Regions from separate parts of the Homo sapiens genome. Here region 2 is linked to region 1. The links come from fine-mapping of genetic effects on gene expression. A gene starts in region 1. The other region holds a variant in brackets. All regions are shown on one strand. Distances are from middle to middle.

Region 1 (8,972 bases):
AAACATCACTAATCATTAAGAAAATGCAAATCAAAGCCACAAGACACAACTTTGCACCCATTAGAAAAGCTGTCATAAAAGTTCATTATAAACAGAAAATAAGTTGATGAAGATGTGTAGAAATTGGAACTGTTTTGCACTGCTGGTGGGAAGGTAAAATGGTGTAGCCATTGTGATAAACAGTACAGTGTTTTCTCAAAAAATTAATAGAATTACCACAAGATCCAGCAATGCCACTTCTAGGTATATACCAGAAATAACTGAAAGCAGCATGATATGGTTAGGCTTTGTGTCCCCACCCAAATCTCATCTTGAATTGTAATCCCCAGGTGTTGAGGGAGATACCTGGTGGCAAGTGATTGAACTATGGGGGAGGTTTCCCCCATGCTGTTCTTGTGATAGTGAGTATTCTCAGGAGATCTGATGGTCTTATAAATGATAGCTTTTCCTGTGCTCTTCTCTCTCCTGCCGCCATATGAATAAGGTCCTTGCTTCCCCCTCACCTTCCACCATGATTGTTCCTGAGGCCTCCTAGCCATGTGGAACTGTGAGCCAAATAAACCTCTTTCCTCTGTAAATTACCCAGTCTTGGGTATTTCTTTATAGCAGTCTAAAGACAGACTAATACACAGGGACTCAAACAAATATTTTTACGCCAATGTTCATGATAGCATTACTAATAATAGCCAAAAATGGAAATGACCCAAATGTTCACTGACAGATGAATGGATAAACAAAATATGATGTATACATATAATGGAATATTATTCAGCCTTCAAACAAAATGAAATTCCAATATATGTAACAACATGGATGAACCTTCAGGACATTTGCTAAGTGAAATAAGCTAGACACAAAATGACAAATATTTTATGATTCCTCTTAAATGAGGTACCTACAATTCATAATGAAAGTAAGTAGAATAGTGGTTACAGAGGTGCTAGGAGAGGCAGGAGTGGAGAGTTGTTGAGTGAGTGTGAAGTTTCAGTTTGGGGTGATGAAAGGCTCTGGGGACAGAAAGTGTTAACAGTTGCACAACAATGTGAATAGGCTTTTTACCACTGAATTGTACACTCAAAAGTGTTTAAAATTGTAAGCTTTATGTTTTGTGTATTTTACAAGAAAAAAATTTTTAATCAATGAATGTAATTCACAATATTGACAGACTAAATAAAAATAGCCATATGATCATATCAATAGATGCAGGACCATATCAATAGATGCAGGACAGGTATCTGACACAATTCAACATATATTTGTTGTAAAATCTCTTAGCTAATTAAGAATAGAAGAAACTTCTAATGTAGGGTATTTACAAAAACTTTTAGCTAACATCACACTTAATGATCTGAATAAGGCAACTGCTATGGTTTTAATGTTTGTCCCCCTCCATAATTCAAATGAAAAGTTAATTGCCATTGTAACAGTTTTAAGAGAGATTGCTATGCATTTTCAACTTTAAGAGATGATTAGGCCACGAGGGCGTCACCTTCATGGGTAGGATTGGTGCTATTATAAAAGGGCAAGTTTGGCCCTCTCTTGCCCCTTTCTCTCTTCTGCCATGTGAGGAAGAGCATTCTGTTCCTCACCTCACCCCATCCCCCAAGGATGCAGCATTCAAGATGCCGTCTTGGAAAACAGATTAAGATAACAATGCTCTCTCAGTACTCCTATTCAACATCATCCTACAAGTCTTGGCCAGTGAAATAAAGGAACAAAAAGAAAGAAAAGTCATACAGTCTGAAAAGGAAGAAACAAATGGTCACTATTTGCAGACAAAATGACTATATATGTAGAACATTTCAAACAATATACCAAAAAAACTTATTTAATTAATAAGCAAGTTTAGCACGTTTTCAGGATAAATGTCAATATACAAAAGTCATCTTATCCCTGTATACCAACAGTGAACAACTGGAATGTGACATTTTAAAAAAATCTATTTAAAACAGAAGAAAGGAAGAAAGAAGGAAAAAAGAAAGGTACACCTCTGTACAAATGTATCAAAATGTGTGCAGGATCTATATATATATATATATATATATATATATATATATATACTGAAAACTACAAAACACAGCTGAAAGGAAAGAAAGATTCACGTAAAATATCCCATTTTCTTTTTTTTTCTTTTTTTTTTTTTTTGAGGTGGAGTCTTGCTCTGTTGCCCTGGCTAGGGTACAGTGGCCCGATCTTGGCTCACTGCAACCTCCACCTCCTGGGTTCAAGCAATTCTCCTGCCTCAGCCTCCTGAGTAGCTGAGATTACAGGCACGTGCCACAATGCCCGGCTATTTTTTGTATTTTTAGTAGAGATGGGGTTTCACCATGTTGGCCAGGCTGGTCTTAAACTCTTGACCTCAAGTGATCTGCCTGCCTCAGCCTCGCAAAGTGCTGGGATTACAGGTGTGAACGACTCCACCCAAAGTACACCAATTTCACTCATTGAGAGACTCAATATTGTTAAGATGCCAGCTCTCCCAAATCTCAGCAATCTTTTTGTAGATGTCAACAGGCTGATTCTAAAATTTCCATGGAAAGGCAAAGAAACTAGAATAGCCAAAATAATTCTTAAAAAGAAAAAATTGGAGAATTTACATTATGAGATTTCAAGGCTTTCTATAAAATTAGAGTAATCCAAACAATATATCTGCAAAAGAATAGACAGACCAGGCAACACAAAGAAGAAAGGATTTTTTAAAGTGAATTGAAATTTTATTTTTATACAAAAACCTGCGTGTGAATCTTACATTACAGGGTTATTCATAATTGTCAAAAACTGGAAACCACCAGCTGCCCTTCAACAGGTGAATGAAGAAACACTACTAAATTAGTGAGTGATACTTTAAGAGAAACATGATGTTTTATAGCCTCAAAATATCTCACTGCAGGCCAGTCATGGTGGCTCGCGTCTGTAGTCCCAGCACTTTGAGAGGCAAAGGTGGGTGGATCGCCTGAGCCCAAGAGTTTGAGACCAACATGGACAAAAACAAAGAAAGAGAAAGAAAAAGGGAAAGGAAGGGAGGGAGGAAGGGAGGGAGGGAGGGAGGAAGGGAGGGAGGGAGGTCCAAAACTTAGCTACTTGGGAAGCTGAGGTGGGAGGATCACTTGAGCCTAGGAAGTCCAGGCTGCAATAAGCCGTGATCGCACCACTTCACTCCAGCCTCGGTGACATAGTGAGACCCGGTCTCAAAAACAAACAAACAAACCAAACCTCACTGCAAATATTTATCAGCTGCGGTGGTGCTGCATCTACACACACAGCGCCGAACTTGGAAGTTGGCGGAGAGCAGCTCTTTGGGCACCAGGCAAGGTCTCAGCCTTCAGACAGATGTGAAGGGCGAGACTTTCCTTGGAAAGGAATTAAAGGGTTTATCTTTTTAAAACACCTGTTTCTCTTAAAAACTTAAGAAATGTATAATTTAAAAATTTAAAACTTTGATATTATTAATTGCTTATTGTTGAATGAATCCTTGTGAAAATTATTGATTGTAATGTTAGTGCCATGGATATGTCCTTTGTCCCAGCACCTATCTCATTGTCCTAACAAGGTTACTGAAGGTTCTCTTTCCACTGCTTTAAAAGCCAGCTGATACATACTACATTCTTTCTTTTTCATATAGTTGAACTTTTACTGCACCAGGATAAATTTTTAAATATTTAGTGATAGTATACATAGTAAATATAGAGATATTGCTATGCATTTTCAATTCTTTTCTGATCATTACCATAAGTTTTTATTAGAATGAAAATTGGAATAGTTCCTTTAGGAAAACAGGCAAAATATATAAATGTCAAAAAAAGAAAATATATACTTAGAAAACATAGATGATTAGAATTTTTAAAAACAAATGTTAGTCTTTTCCTCCAGTATCTATTAAAGTGTTTTTCAGTGTCAACAGTAAAATTTTATACCTTGATTCATATATACTGCACTAGTTTACTGTTGCCATTAATCTTTTTTCTTGCTAATCAAAACTTATCATTGCCATATAAAATAACCTGTTAGAAAGTATCAACCGTGTGTGTGTGAGTGTATGTGTGTTACTAAAAAGAGTGTCATAAAATACTGTGCTGAGAGGTTCCTAATTTGGTTCCTGATTTCAGAAGCATACCACATAAGATTTAAGCAAGCTCATCTCTAGGAGATGCATAATTTGTGGATAACGGTTTTCTTAGTTGGGATTGTGTGTACTTCAGGTATTATGTAATGCTGAACAGCTTACTTGCTTTTTCTTTTTTTCCCCCCAGAGATAAACTGAGGATCACAAATATTATTCTTTTATGTTAATAATGGTTTCCATTTTCTAGTATTTGTTACATTTTACGGCTTTATTCACAAAGCTGTTTATGTATTTTTGTGGCAGCTCTAAGTTAAAAGGCACACTTGTAACATTACAGTCCCAATTTTCCCTTTATCAACTTTATATTATAAAATTTTCCAACACATAGTCAATAAGCATGTCCATATTCTAGAAGTAGATATTCTTAACATTTTGCCATACTTCCCATTTCTAATTATTTTTTAAAAAGAACTTACAAACGGGCCGGGAGTGGTAGCTCACGCCTGTATACCCAGCACTTTGGGAGGCCAAGGCAGGCGGATCACTTGAGGTGAGGAGTTCGAGACCAGCCTGGCCAACATGGTGAAACCCCGTCTCTACTAAAAATACAAAAATTAGCTGGGCGTAGTGGCGGGCGCCTGTAGTCCCAGCTACTTGGGAGGCTGAGGCAGGAGAATCGCTTGAACCCGGGAGGCGGAGGTTGCAGTTAGCCGAGATCGCGCCACTGCACTCCAGCCTGGGCGACAGAGTAAGACTCCGTCTCAAAAAAAAAAAAAAAAACCAAAAAACCCAAAAACTTACAAACATAATACAATCCTAAATACTTACATAGACATCTCTTTATGAATAAGCAAGATTACCTACATAATCCCAATGCTGCCACAATTAATTAATAATTCTAATTTCCAGTCCGTATACAAATTTTCCCAATTGTTTTCAAACGTCTTCCGCGGCTCTTGCTTTCTGTAACCACACGCTGCATTTGCTGTTATGTCATCAAGTCTAACCCACAACCTCTGGGGCTCTGACAGAACCCGGGCTCCAGTTATCAGGACGGTCCATGTTATTACGCCATAAATCTTGGGGGAAAAACAAACAAAAAAACACTGACAGCTGGCGCCGTACTGCATGTGAAACGTAGTCTTGCATGTTATGGGTTACCGCGCAGCATGCTGGGAACGGATATGCGCGTTTTCGTCTGCGCATGTGCAGTCAACCCCACTTTCCGGCTTCTCCCTGTTAGTGTTTGCTGGTGCAGAGGGTTCGCAGCTCAGGTGAGAGCGCCGGGCCTCCACGCGGATTGCGGACCTGCAGGGAGGGATGTGCTAGTGTCCAGGGGGCGGGAACGCGACGTCCCGGGAACTCCCCCAAAGCAGGCCGTCGCTCCCTGTGCCTCGGCCGGCCCGGGACCTCAGCCTGAGAAGGGCCGGTGGGGGCGGGCTCCGGGGGCGTTAGGTGGGGCTGAGTCCTAGTTGGAAGATGCTCGGTGCGGGCCGAGGTATGGGCGCCAGAATGCAGCCAGGCGTCGGAAAACGCGGTGCTGGCTTCAGGAGGGGAATGCGCGTTTATTGTATTGACCATGAACCTGCCACAAAGCGCGTACAGCCCGTGGGTCTGCGGTGAGAGGCCGAGCCTAGGAGCTAGAAGGACCTCGTGAATTTTGGCTCTGTCACTTGAGCGTTTGAAAATGAGGATATTAGTAAAAACTGCTTTGTGTCGTTCAGAGGTAAGCCATCCCCTGTAAAGCATTTAGCTAAGCGCTAGTTACTAAGCAGCATGTAAATGTTGATTCCCGTTATATTTGGAAGACACTTTGTTCTTTTCATGTAGTATTTCGTTTAATTCTCACAACCACCCTATTTATATCATTAAAAATGAAGAAGGAGGAGTGAAAAGATAGAGCCAAGCTCACAAAGGATGAGAGAGCTAGGATGTCAATACATAAACACTTTACTCCCCGAATCAGGCTGTTTGTAATGGCCTACCTACCTAACCCAGCATTGCAGCCTTCACAGCACTGAGTGATTGTCCCCAAAACCCCAGGACAATGATTGTGAAGTCAGTGTGGACAGAATCTTACTATGTGGCAAGTGTATTTGTTGTGGGGTTTCTGGGATGTCTCCAGAGCCTCTGGGTTAGACTGAGGCCCCTGCCACCTCCTGTGCTGTCCCTCCTGTCTCTGTCTTTAGAAGTCAGTCTGATATTCTAGGGCAGTGAAGATGAGTCACATACGTAATTTTAAATGTTAAACTAGTAGCTACATGAAAATCTAAAACATGAAATTAATTTTAAGAACATACTGTGGTTTTCTCAGTGTATCCAAAATGTTATTTCAACATGTGGTCCTAGCCACATTTCCAGTGCTCAGTAGTTGATGTGATTGGAGGCTGTAGTCATGGATAGCAGGGTTCTAATTAATGCCAAGAGAATCAGGTTTAAGGCCTTAGGTCACTTCTTCACCAGGAGGATTTTGCTCCCTAGGGAACTTTGGAAATGTTGGAGACTTTTTTGGTGGGGGGAGAGGGGACTGAGTTTCTCTCTGTCGCCCAGGCTGGAGGGCAGTGGTGTGATCTTGGCTCACTGCAACCTCCACCTCCCAGGTTCAACTGATTCTCCTGCCCCAGCCTCCCAGCTTGTAATCTCAGCTGGAATTACAAGCATGCATGGCCATGCCCAGCTAATTTTTTGTATTTTTAGTAGAGGTGGGGTTTCACCATATTGGCCAGGCTTATCTTGAACTCCTGACCTCAGGTGATCCACCTGCCTTGGCCTCCCACAGTCCTGGGATTACAGGCGTGAGCCACCACGCCCGGCCTGGAGACGTTTCTGATTGTCACAACAGGGAGAAGGGGTGTCCTAGTGTCTAGTGCATGTTTAGAAATGCTCTTAAACATCCTGCAATGCACAGGACCACTCCTTATGTCAGAGGATTATCCAGCCCAAAATGGAAGTTGTGCTGACGTGAAGAACACTGTTTTCCATGAAAGTTTCAACTAAAATAAATTTGTTACCCAGGCATCAGCCCCAGCTTCTCTGGAGCAAAGCAGCTCTTTATGTTGCAGGAAGGAGGGAGCCCCAGGAACAGGAGTCCCACCGAAGAACTGCTCTCTGACAGAACAGAGACCTCCTCACCAGGGCTTCCAAACAGATGCAGAAGAACCCAGAAAGGAGCAGGTCTTGATTTGCCCAACCAGCGGCACTTCTTCATCCCCTTGCCCAGAGAGCACCAGACTTGGTGATGTCGCCACATCCAGAAGCCATCACAGATTGTGTGACACTGAACACTGTGGGCCAACTTGCAGAAGGTGGTAAGCTGGGGTTGAGAGGCGTGGGTGACTGTCAGACTGCACAGGAAAAGCCACATTACTGGAGGGCTTTTCTCCATGGTCTCCAAGGAAGGCATAACCAGCCAGGGCTGAGGAAATTGTCTCTAATCCTCCTCATAGAGCCCCCATTTTCTTCATTCTTGCCTCACTCTTTCCAGATTCTGAGTCACTCTCACACAACATCCATCACATGTAGCATCTAGAAATTTACTAAGGTTGCCTCTATCCTGAACCTGTAGAATCACAAAAATGATAATACAGGAAAGGATTTCTATTTCTGACTCTTAAAACCTTAAAAAGTATTGAACCTAGGATGAACAGTTTGTCCATGGTCACTCAGGACAGAGCTTGGAGCAAAGCACAGTGCTGTTCACTCTGTCACAGGTGAGTCACCAGAAGTGTCTTATCGAAAGTCTTTTGAGAAACTATAAGTTAGAACAAAAATATTTTAAAATAGTCTTTCAGCATCTCCTTTTTTTCAGTTTTGTGTTTTCTATTGGTGTAAATAATATTAACAGAATATTAATGTTAATTCTGTTTAAGTTGTTAGTCAAAGAAGACATACATTTTAAATAAATCAATAGGAAAATAGTCTACAATCGCCTGATGAAAAACAGCAAGGGGCCAGGCCTGGTGGCTCACCCCTGCAATCCCAGCATTTTGGGAGGCCAAGGCGGGCAGATTGCTTGAGGTCAGGAGTTCGAGACCAGCCTAAGCTACATGGTGAAACCCCATTTCTACAAAAAATACAAAAATTAGCTGGGTGTAGTGGTGGGTGCCTTTGGTCCCAGCAACTCAGGAGGCTGAGACGGGAGAATTGCATGAACCCAGGAGGCAGAAGTTGCAGTGAACTGAGATCACACCGCTGCACTCCAGCCTGGGCAACAGAGCCAGATCCTGTCTCAAAAAAAAAAAACAAAAAAACACACACACACAGCAAGGGTTCATCCACATGATCATATTAAAGATGCACATATTCAGGAGGTGCTTTCTCTGTAGTGCTGCTTGTCCCTTCTCAAAGGTCAAAGGAACATTTTTTGTAGAGAGGCCTTTTTCCCCAGCTGGTGTGATGACATTGGTAGGCAGGTAAGATGGAGGCTGCCCAGATCTCTCATGACTCCTTCCTCACCCCCAGGTTATCCTTTACGGTTCTCCACACTCTTTCAGGAGCAGCAGAAAATGAACATATCTCAGGTGAGTTAATTACTAATACCTTTTTCATCATGGATTTCATAGGTGTTTAAGGGTCCACATATTAATATGGAAATGTAGAAATGGATCAAAATCATTCAAGGAATATATAGAAAAGCAGGGCAGTAGCACAGCAGAATTGGCATGTGGAAAGATGGAGGTCGCCTGATGTTACAGATTTTCCAAAATGGAACTGCAGTTTTCATTCTTTCTGATAGCCATGGCAGAGAGCCAGACAGACAGTATTTTTTTTACAGATTTGCATTGATGAGAAGCTTAAAACCAGGCTGATTCCTCATGGAATCTAAAGTTATCAAAGTCAGGGAAAATGTCTTTGTTGGTCTTCATGTGTCAGTGCAAATCTTTCTCATAACAGCCTTGAAATAAATGCA
Region 2 (8,972 bases), 130 kb after region 1:
AGACAGTCATATAACCCATGTGGAGCAGGGATTGGAGCTGGCCAAACCAGAGCCAGTGATATTTGTGACAGGGTTGTAGGGCAGACATAAGCTAGAAAGAAATGACAAGGCTTGAAGAGGGGATAGAGAGGAGGGGATGGGTCTGGGAGCTGTTTGTGAGGCAGAGTTGCTGATCCCTTTATTGATGGGTTTTTTTTTGTTTTTTGTTTTTTGTTTTGAAACAGAGTTTCACTCTTGTTGTCTAGGCTAGAGTGTGATGGTGTGATCTCGGCTCACTGCAACCTCCACCTCCTGGGTTCAAGTGATTCTCCTGCCTCAGCCTCCGGGGTAGCTGGGATTACAGGCATGCACCACCATGCCCTGCTAATTTTGTATTTTTAGTAGAGATAGGGTTTCTCCATGTTGGTCAGGCTGGTCTTGAACTCCCGACCTCAGGTGATCCACCCACCTCGGCCTCCCAAAGTGCTGGGGTTACAGGCATGAGCCACCGCACCCGGCTCCTTTATAGATGTTTTTAAAGAAAAAGACCTAAACTTGATCAGAACTAATGATGAGCTGGCATAAACATAGAGTCTGCTTGTTTCTCTCTCTTTAGTATAGGAAATCATAGCAGTACAGATTGTGAACCTTACTTTTTGGTACACAGTTTTCATGTGCTGTAACAGAGTCTCAACATGTGTAAGGTCTGTTTAATTATTTAGCACTTTAGGGCTGGGCGCGGTGGCTCACGCCTGTAATCCCAGCACTTTGGGAGGCCAAGGCGGGTGGATCACCTGAAGTCAGGAGTTCATGACCAGCCTGACCAACATGGAGAAACCCTGTCTCTACTAAAAATATGAAATTAGCCCGGTGTGGTGGTGCACATCTGTAATCCCAGCTACTCGGGAGACTGAGGCAGGAGAATTGCTTGACCCCAGAAGGCAGAGGTTGTGGTGAGCCAAGATTGTGCCATTGCACTCTAGCCTGGGCAACAAGAGCGAAACTCTGTCTCAAAAAAAAAAATTTAGCACTTTATATATAAACTGTGAGTTTCACTTTAGTAACACCTCACTATTCATTGTCACAATAAAGATATGGAATTGCAAACTAAATAGATGAATACTAAGTTGAATATATGCTTGTAATTATAAGAGAGGGTGTATTCAAATCTTCACTACTTCAACCTGTGTTGAAGGACTGCATTGCCAAACAAAATATTAGGTTCTCATAAAATAATTTTTTTGAGGTTTCTCCCTAAAAAAAACATAAAGCATAAATCTCAAAATCAGTCTCAGAATAGTCTTACTTGAAAACTAAGGCACTAAAAATATATTATATAATTATAATTTAAAATTAATGGTGCCTATTTTAATAAAGATGAAGAATAAGAAAATGAAGCCATTACATACAAGGGAGTACTGGGTTTGTAGAAGACTGAAAAACAGGAATTTGACACAAAAGAAGTAAATTCAAACTGGCAAAACTAGATTGTGCTTGACAACAAAGATTACTTAGTTCTAGGCTATGGAATCTCAAGTTGAATTTCTAAAATTTCTGAAATATTAATTGACCCCTTCTTTGGACATAAGAAGAGAGTTTGGGCTGGGTGTCGTGGCTCACACCTGCATTCCTAGCACTTTGGGAGGCCAAGGTGGGAGGACTTCTTGAGTGTAGGAGTTCGAGACCAGCCTGGGCAACATGGCCAGACCCTGTCTCTACAAAAAAATACAAAAATTAGCTGGGCATGGTGCATGCCTGTACTCCCTGCTATGCGGGAGGCTGAGGTGGGAGAATCGATTGGAGCCTGGGAGGTTGAGGCTGCAATGAGCAGTGATCGTGCCACTGCACTCCCGCCTGGGTGACGGATTGACTCCCTGTCTCAAAATTTTCTTTTGCATTTTAAAAAATAAGGAGAGAGTTTGGATTTCTGAGCATTTATTTCACATGTAGAATCCTATAAGATAGTAAAATTCAAGGCCAGGCATGGTGGCTCACACTTGTAATCCCAGCACTTTGGGAGGCGGAGGTGGGAGGATCACTTGAGGCCAGGAATTTGAGACCGGCCTGGGCAACAAAGTGAGACCCCATCTCAACAACAAAAAAAAATTTTTAATTAGCCAGGATTGGTGGCATGAACCAGTGGTCGCAGCTACTTAGGAAGCTGACGGGGGAGGATCGCTTGAGCCCAGGAGTTTGAGGCTGCAGTGAGCTATGATTGTGCCACTGCACTCCAGCCTGAGCAACAGAGCATGACCCTGTCTCTTAAAAAACAAAGTAAAACTTAATCTTTTACTCAAGTCTCTATGCTAGTGAGCCTGTATTTGTTTCTTGGTAAGATAAATGCTCATTATAATGTAAACATGAAAGAAATCAAAGAGTTGAAGAGATGAGGAGAAATAATAGGTGTTTGGAAATATTCGGAAATTAGGCAGGCCAAAGGCTGCATAGTCATTAAAATAAAAAGTTAAAAGTAAGACATACATGGCAAGGATAGGAGAAAAATTAATTACAAGAAGAATAAAGAGACTGAGTCTCTTTGCTCCAATGAAGTGGAAATTAAGTATTAGCCACTGTGATAACAGAAATAGAAAACTGACAGCCAAGGAGAAGTGAAGAGGTAGCTGCAGTGGCTGTTGTCACAGCTAAGCCCCCATGTCTCAGTAGCATGACATGGTAGGAGGTTATTTCTTTTTATCTTAAATTTCAAGAACGGGACCGGCTGCGGTGGCTTATGCTTGTAATCCCAGCACTTTGGGAGGCCAAGGCGGGCAGATCACCTGAGGTCAGGAGTTTGAGACCAGCCTGACCAACGTGGAGAAACCCCATCTGTACTAAAAATAGAAAACTAGCCGGGCGTGGTGGCACATGCCTGTAATCCCAGCCACTTGGGAGGCTGAGGTAGGAGAATTGCTTGAATCCAGATGGCAGAGGTTGCAGTGAGCCAAGATTGCGCCATTGCACTCCATCCTGGGCAACGAGAGTGAAACTCCATCTCAAAAAAAAAATTTTTTTTCAAGAACGGTTTTTCTATTTGGATGCCTTTCCTCTTGAGCAGCAGTTCCGGGATCCAGGCACCCTCCATCTTGTGCTTTGCCACCTTCAACCCAAGCCTTCCAAGAATGTAGAAGGAATATGAGAATCACTTGTGGGAGGAGCTTGGCCTGGAAGCAGCACAGATCATTTCATTCATTGTTTATAACATAGTCACATGCCTTGCCTAACTGCAACTAAGACTGGAAAATATACTTCAGCTGTGGGCCCAGAAAGAGGAAACAGGTTTTGACCAACACGTAGCAGTCTGTGTCACAATGTCTCTTGAAAAGGACTGTAGCTGCCTATTAATAAGTGAGACTAAACAGAGTATAAATGGGGAATTAAAATGGAAAGCACTGCTAATTTGAGAAGTCGATAGTTGACATTTTTCTGTGGCAGAAAATGATGTGGGTCCGTCATCACGTTTCCTTTAAAGCAGTAGTTCTTAACTGGGACATTTACTCCTCTCTCCCTTGGGAGACATTTGGCATTGTCTGAAGACATTTTTGGTTTTTACAACTTGGTAAACGGTGCCACTGGTATTTAGTGGGTATAGAAGGCAAGGATGTTGCAAAACACCGTATATCGCACAGGACAAAGAATGATCTGAGCCAAAATGTTGATGGTAAAAGATTGAGAAACCATTCTTTAAAGGAAGAAAGAGAATGTTTTCTAGAAATACATTATCTTCTTAATATCAAATTGAATATAAAATGACATCTAAAGACAATTTTCGACATTTCAGGACAGAGCCCCCACATAAAATCAAATCTACTCTCAGGAAGCCTTCAGAGCCTGTGGCGGGCAGTGACTGGCCCTCTCTTTGATTTTCAAGGAGACCCAGCTCAGCAAGGTGGAACCCTCATTTTAGGTCCAGGTAAGCATCAAAGCCCAGGTTCAGCAGTAGACGTCTTGTGCTTTTTACAAGTTCAGAGGCCGCCATTTTCTTTTCTTTTCCTTTTTTTTTTTTTTCGAGAGGGAGTCTCGCTCTGTCGCCAAGGCTGGAGTGCAGTGGCGCAATCTCGGCTCACTGCAAGCTCTGCCTCCCGGGTTCACGCCATTCTCCTGCCTCAGCCTCCCGAGTAGCTGGGACTACAGGTGCCCGCCACGACGCCCGGCTAATTTTTTAAATTTTTAGTAGAGACGGGGTTTCACCGTGTTAGCCAGGATGGTCTCGGTCTCCTGACCTCGTGATCCACCCACCTCGGCCTCCCAAAGTGTTGGGATTACAGGCATGAGCCACCGCGCCCCACCCAGAGGCCACCATTTTCTTCATAAAGCAGACACCCTGTACAAATGGACATCTTGGCATTACAGCCAGGATGCTGTGCTTTTGTAGGGGGGCATCTTTTGTTTTCAAAGGCTTCTGTATATTTTGATGTTTATGTATTTGATGAGCGTGCCCATCATCCCATGCCTAGATGATTTCCCACAGTCACCTGTGGGCTGGCGATCTGTATATGGCTGTCACACACTCCGCTATTTAGGAATGTTCAGTGGAGATGAACATTTCTGAATAGGGGAAAATCGTCACGTGCCTTTTTTTTCAAGAAAAGAATCCAGCCGGGCGCGGTGGTTTACGCCTGTAATCCCAGCACTTTGGGAGGCCAAGGCGGGCGGATCACGAGGTCAGGAGATCAAGACCATCCTGGCTAACACGGTGAAACCCCGTCTCTACTAAAAATACAAAAAAAAATTAGCCGGACGTGGTGGCGGGTGCCTGTAGTCCCAGCTACTCGGGAGGCTGAGGCAGGAGACTGGCGTGAACCTGGGAGGCGGAGCTTGCAGTGCGCCGAGATCGCACCACTGAACTCCAGCCCTCCAGCCTGGGTGAGAGAGTGAGACTCTGCCTCAAAAAAAAAAAAAAAAAAAAAAAAAAAAAAAAAAAGAATCCATGTAGTTATTTATACCTAACAAAACTAGGAGACTTACTCAGTGTCAGCAAGTTAGTCAGTGCTAGGGACAGCTCATCCCATAAGATTGGGATTGAGGCCGGGCATGGTGGCTCACACCTATAATCCCAGCATTTTGGGAGGCTGAGACTGGTGGATCACTTGAGGCCAGGAGTTCCAGACCAGCCCTTGGTGAAACCCCATCTCTACTAAAAGTACAAAAAATTAGCCGGGCGTGGTGGTGCATGCTTGTAATCCCACCTACTTGGGAGGCTAAGGCAGGAGAATCACTTGAACCTGGGAGGCGGAGGTTGCAGTGAGCCCAGATCGTGCCACTGCACTCCAGCCTGGGTGACAAGAAGGAAACTCCCTCTCAAAAAATAAAAAAGAATGGGATTGAGGTCCGACT[A/G]TAAGCCACACACTGTTAACTTTATTGATGGGTGTGGACCACCTGAGATTGCTTTGGCTCGTCTCTGCTAAGTGTTTGAACAGATGTATTTGAACAGATGTAGGGATTGTGGACATCTAAGTGTATTGTAACTGATTAGATCTCTACTGTGTTCCAGCATTGCAACAAAGGACAAACACCCTTATCAGACAGGGCCCAAAAGCCTAAATCACTATGTTGTAAGACCATCTTTTTGTTTTTTCTTCCTCTTTAAAACTGTCTGCTTAATGAGCATAGCTTATAAGAGTTATATGAGTAATATTTACTTTGATAAATACCTTTTTTTTTTTTTTTTTTTGAGACAGAGCCTTGCTCTGTCACCAGGCTGGAGTGCAGTGGTGTAATCTCGGCTCACTACAACCTCCGCCTCCCGGGATCAAGCGATTTTCCTGCCTCAGTCTCCCTAGTAGCTGGGACTACAGGCGCCTGCCACCACACCCAGCTAATTTTTGTATTTTTAGTAGAGGCAAGGTTTCACCAGGTTGGCCAGAATGGTCTCAATTACTTGACTTCGTGATCTGCCCACCTCTGCCTCCCAAAGTGCTGGGATTACAGGTGTGAGCCACCACACCCAGCCAATACCATATTTTTTAGAAGGAGGGTTTTGACTGAGTAATATGATTTTTGGGCTTTTTGCAGCTGGAACATTGTAGCCAAAATCTCCCTTTGCCTCCCTCTCATGAATTTATAACAGATTCGTTATAAAAAGAAGCCCTGATGAATGAGAATGAATCCTATGCATTAGCCCAGAATGACATTAGCCATATTTCTGAACAACTTATTTCCATCCTCATACCCAAAAGGGGATGTTTTTGAGTCCCTTATCTCCATGTCTCTGAATCATTTGTCCACATCTTCTGTTGTGTAAGAATAAAGAGTACATGGGCTGGGCGCAGTGGCTCACACCTGTAATCCCAACACTTTGGGAGCCCAAGGTGAGCAGATCACAAGGTCGGGAGATCGAGACAATCCTGACTAACACGGTGAAACCCCATCTCTACTAAAAATATAAAAAATTAGCCGGGTATGGTGGCATGCACCTGTAGTTCCAGCTACTAGGGAGGCTGAGGCAGGATAATCGCTTGAACCTGGGAAGTGGAGGTTGGCAGTGAGCCAAAATCACACCACTGCACTACAGCCTGGGCGAGAGACCAAGACACTGCCCCCAAAAATAAATAAGTAAAGAAGAAAGAGCACATGGAGAGCATCATTTGTGTGCCAACTTGGGACCATTCAGTCATCCCTCAGCATCCATGGCGGATTGGTTCCTGGACCTGCAGTGGATCCCAGAATCTGAGATGCTCAAGTGTCTCACATAAAATGCTGTAGTATTTGGATCTAACCTATGCACGTCCTCCCCTGCACTTTAAATCATCTCTAGTTTACTTATAATACCAAATGCAATGTAAATAGTTGTTGTACTGTACTATTTAGGGAATAATGACCAGGAAAAAAAAATGTCTGTACATATTCAGCAGATATGCAGCTATCCTTTTTTTCTGAATATTTTCAATCCGTGGTTTGTTGAATGAGGATGCGGAACTCATGGATGCAGAAGACCAGCTGTGCTTAGAAAACATGCCTCATGGCCGGGTGCAGTGGCTTACACCTGTAATCCCAGCACTTTGGGAGGCCGAGGTGGGCGGATCACAAGATCAGGAGATCAAGACCATCCTGGCCATCTGGTGAAACCCCGTCTCTACTCAAAATACAAAAATTAGCTGGGCGTGGTGGTGCAAGCCTGTAGTCCCAGCTACTCGGGAGGCTGAGGCAAGAGAATCGCTTGAACCCAGAAGGCGGAGGTTGCAGTGAGCCGAGATCATGCCACTGCACTCCAGCCTGGCGACAAAGCGAGCCTCCGTCTCAAAAAAAAAAAAAAAAAATGAAAACGTGCCTCATACACTTAATCTAATGGTTTAAGTTAAAATTCTGGTCTTGAGTTCAAGAATCAAACAGAAACTAGATTGTAAATTTATGATTATAAATTATAAAATCTGTATTTGAACAGATGTAAGGATTGTGAACATCTAAGTGTATTATAACTGATTGTCTTTTAAGGCCTTATTTTAGAGCCTCTTTTGGGCTATGGTTATAATACAGATAGCCTGTTAAATCAGTATTTCGGAGTGGATTTTTTGAAGTGAGTGATTTATTTCCTTATTATATTTATTCTATTATTAGATTTAAGAAACAGATGTGATTTTCCAGCTTGATATCTATGTGAGTTCCGTATTCTGCCCGTCTGACAGGACATTTTATTTAATTATATTTAATAAAACCTAACAGAAGGTTATAATTTAAAAATCTTTCCCCTTGGATCTCATAAAACATCAAGTATGGCTCTTATTTAACCATAATCCTTGTCATACTTTATTACCATGATTTAAAATTATTATGGCATTATATAGAGAATATAATGCACTCCAGGTAATTAATTTTTCCCTTTGGACTAATTAAAGGTTGAAAAGCTTCCTTGATTTTAGTAAGCAGTAAATCTGATGAATAATACTATGCCTCAGCCTTTTATTCTTATTCTCTTCTAGGTAACAACATCCATTTTATACACCGCGATAGGAATAGGTTGGATCACAAACCTATCAACTCTGTTTTACAGCTTGTAGGAGTTCAGCATGTGAACTTTACAAACAGACCTTCAGTTATCCATGTGTGACTTAAAATGCACTCAGTCACTTTCAACTGGACCTTCTGGAATGTGACCTTCAATGCCTGGGTGTAATATCCTCGTGCAGTGTCTAACCTGCTGTCCCTTCCCAGCCTTTGAGGAGTTAGGGAAGCATAAAGGGGGCTTGAACCTGTTGAATTGCATGCTGGGAAGCATCAGTTGTCAAAATATGTTATATACTTCCATTTTATAACTTTTAACATTTTATACAAAAAAAATGAATATACAAAATATAACTTTAAAAGCTATAAAATCATAAATACTCTAAATTATTTTACATTATGGTATATTCAGTCAATGAAAGAGTTTTTTGGCAATATAAATTCTGACAGTATATAAGGGGACAGGAGAACAACACAAGACCATTATATTCAGTGAAGAAGGCAAAATATCAAATCTGTCAACAATGTAACTGCATTTTTATATGTATATATTTGTATTTTTGTATGCTTTGGAAAAAGACAGGAAATAAACACCAAAATGTTGCCAGTAGGTATCTCTGTGTTAAGATTAGTGTTATTATTTTCTTTTCTGTACTTTTCTGTATTTCCCAACTGTTATATAATGAGCATGATTAATATTGTAGGGCCAGGAAAAGGTCTTTAAACATTATAGGACAATTTTATGCCACATAACAACCTTCACAAAAGAGCAAAATTATATAAGCTGTAGTCCACTTTTCCATCGTAATTGCTTTACTCAGAGGAAGTGTGGCAATCCGAACATTTCACATATAGCCAGTGTCCACAGCACCTTCTCAAACTACATACTTGCTATCCGTTTCACTAGGATTTTGGGGGGTTGGGGGAGCTATGGAGAAAAAAATTGTTTTAGATATTTAAGATATGTATTTAAAAATATGGTCAGTGTGCTTTTTGAAAGGGAACTATAAGAATTTTTTTTTTTTTTTTTTTTGAGATGGAGTCTCACTCTGTTG

The links. PIP is the estimated chance that this variant, and not a neighbour inherited with it, causes the effect. A credible set is the group of variants that fine-mapping cannot tell apart.
Region 2: its variant is the best candidate, but not a certain one, in a credible set for the expression of ZNF510 in lymphoblastoid cells (GEUVADIS, PIP 0.87).

Annotation. Positions count from the first base shown.
Region 1 is chr9:96,774,399-96,783,370 of GRCh38, reverse strand. It overlaps ZNF510 (zinc finger protein 510), which reads left to right and starts at 5,284. Exons shown (of 6, transcript NM_014930.3): 1 at 5,284-5,337; 2 at 7,126-7,371; 3 at 8,525-8,583. The coding sequence starts at 7,302. RefSeq lists a silencer at 5,424-5,523.
Region 2 is chr9:96,640,810-96,649,781 of GRCh38, reverse strand. It overlaps PRXL2C (peroxiredoxin like 2C), which reads left to right. Exons shown (of 6, transcript NM_153698.2): 5 at 3,758-3,889; 6 at 7,896-8,972. The coding sequence ends at 8,023. Among named protein-coding and RNA genes, the nearest start is that of PRXL2C, 10 kb to the left of the region's middle. The variant A/G (reference allele first, on the strand shown) is at 5,314.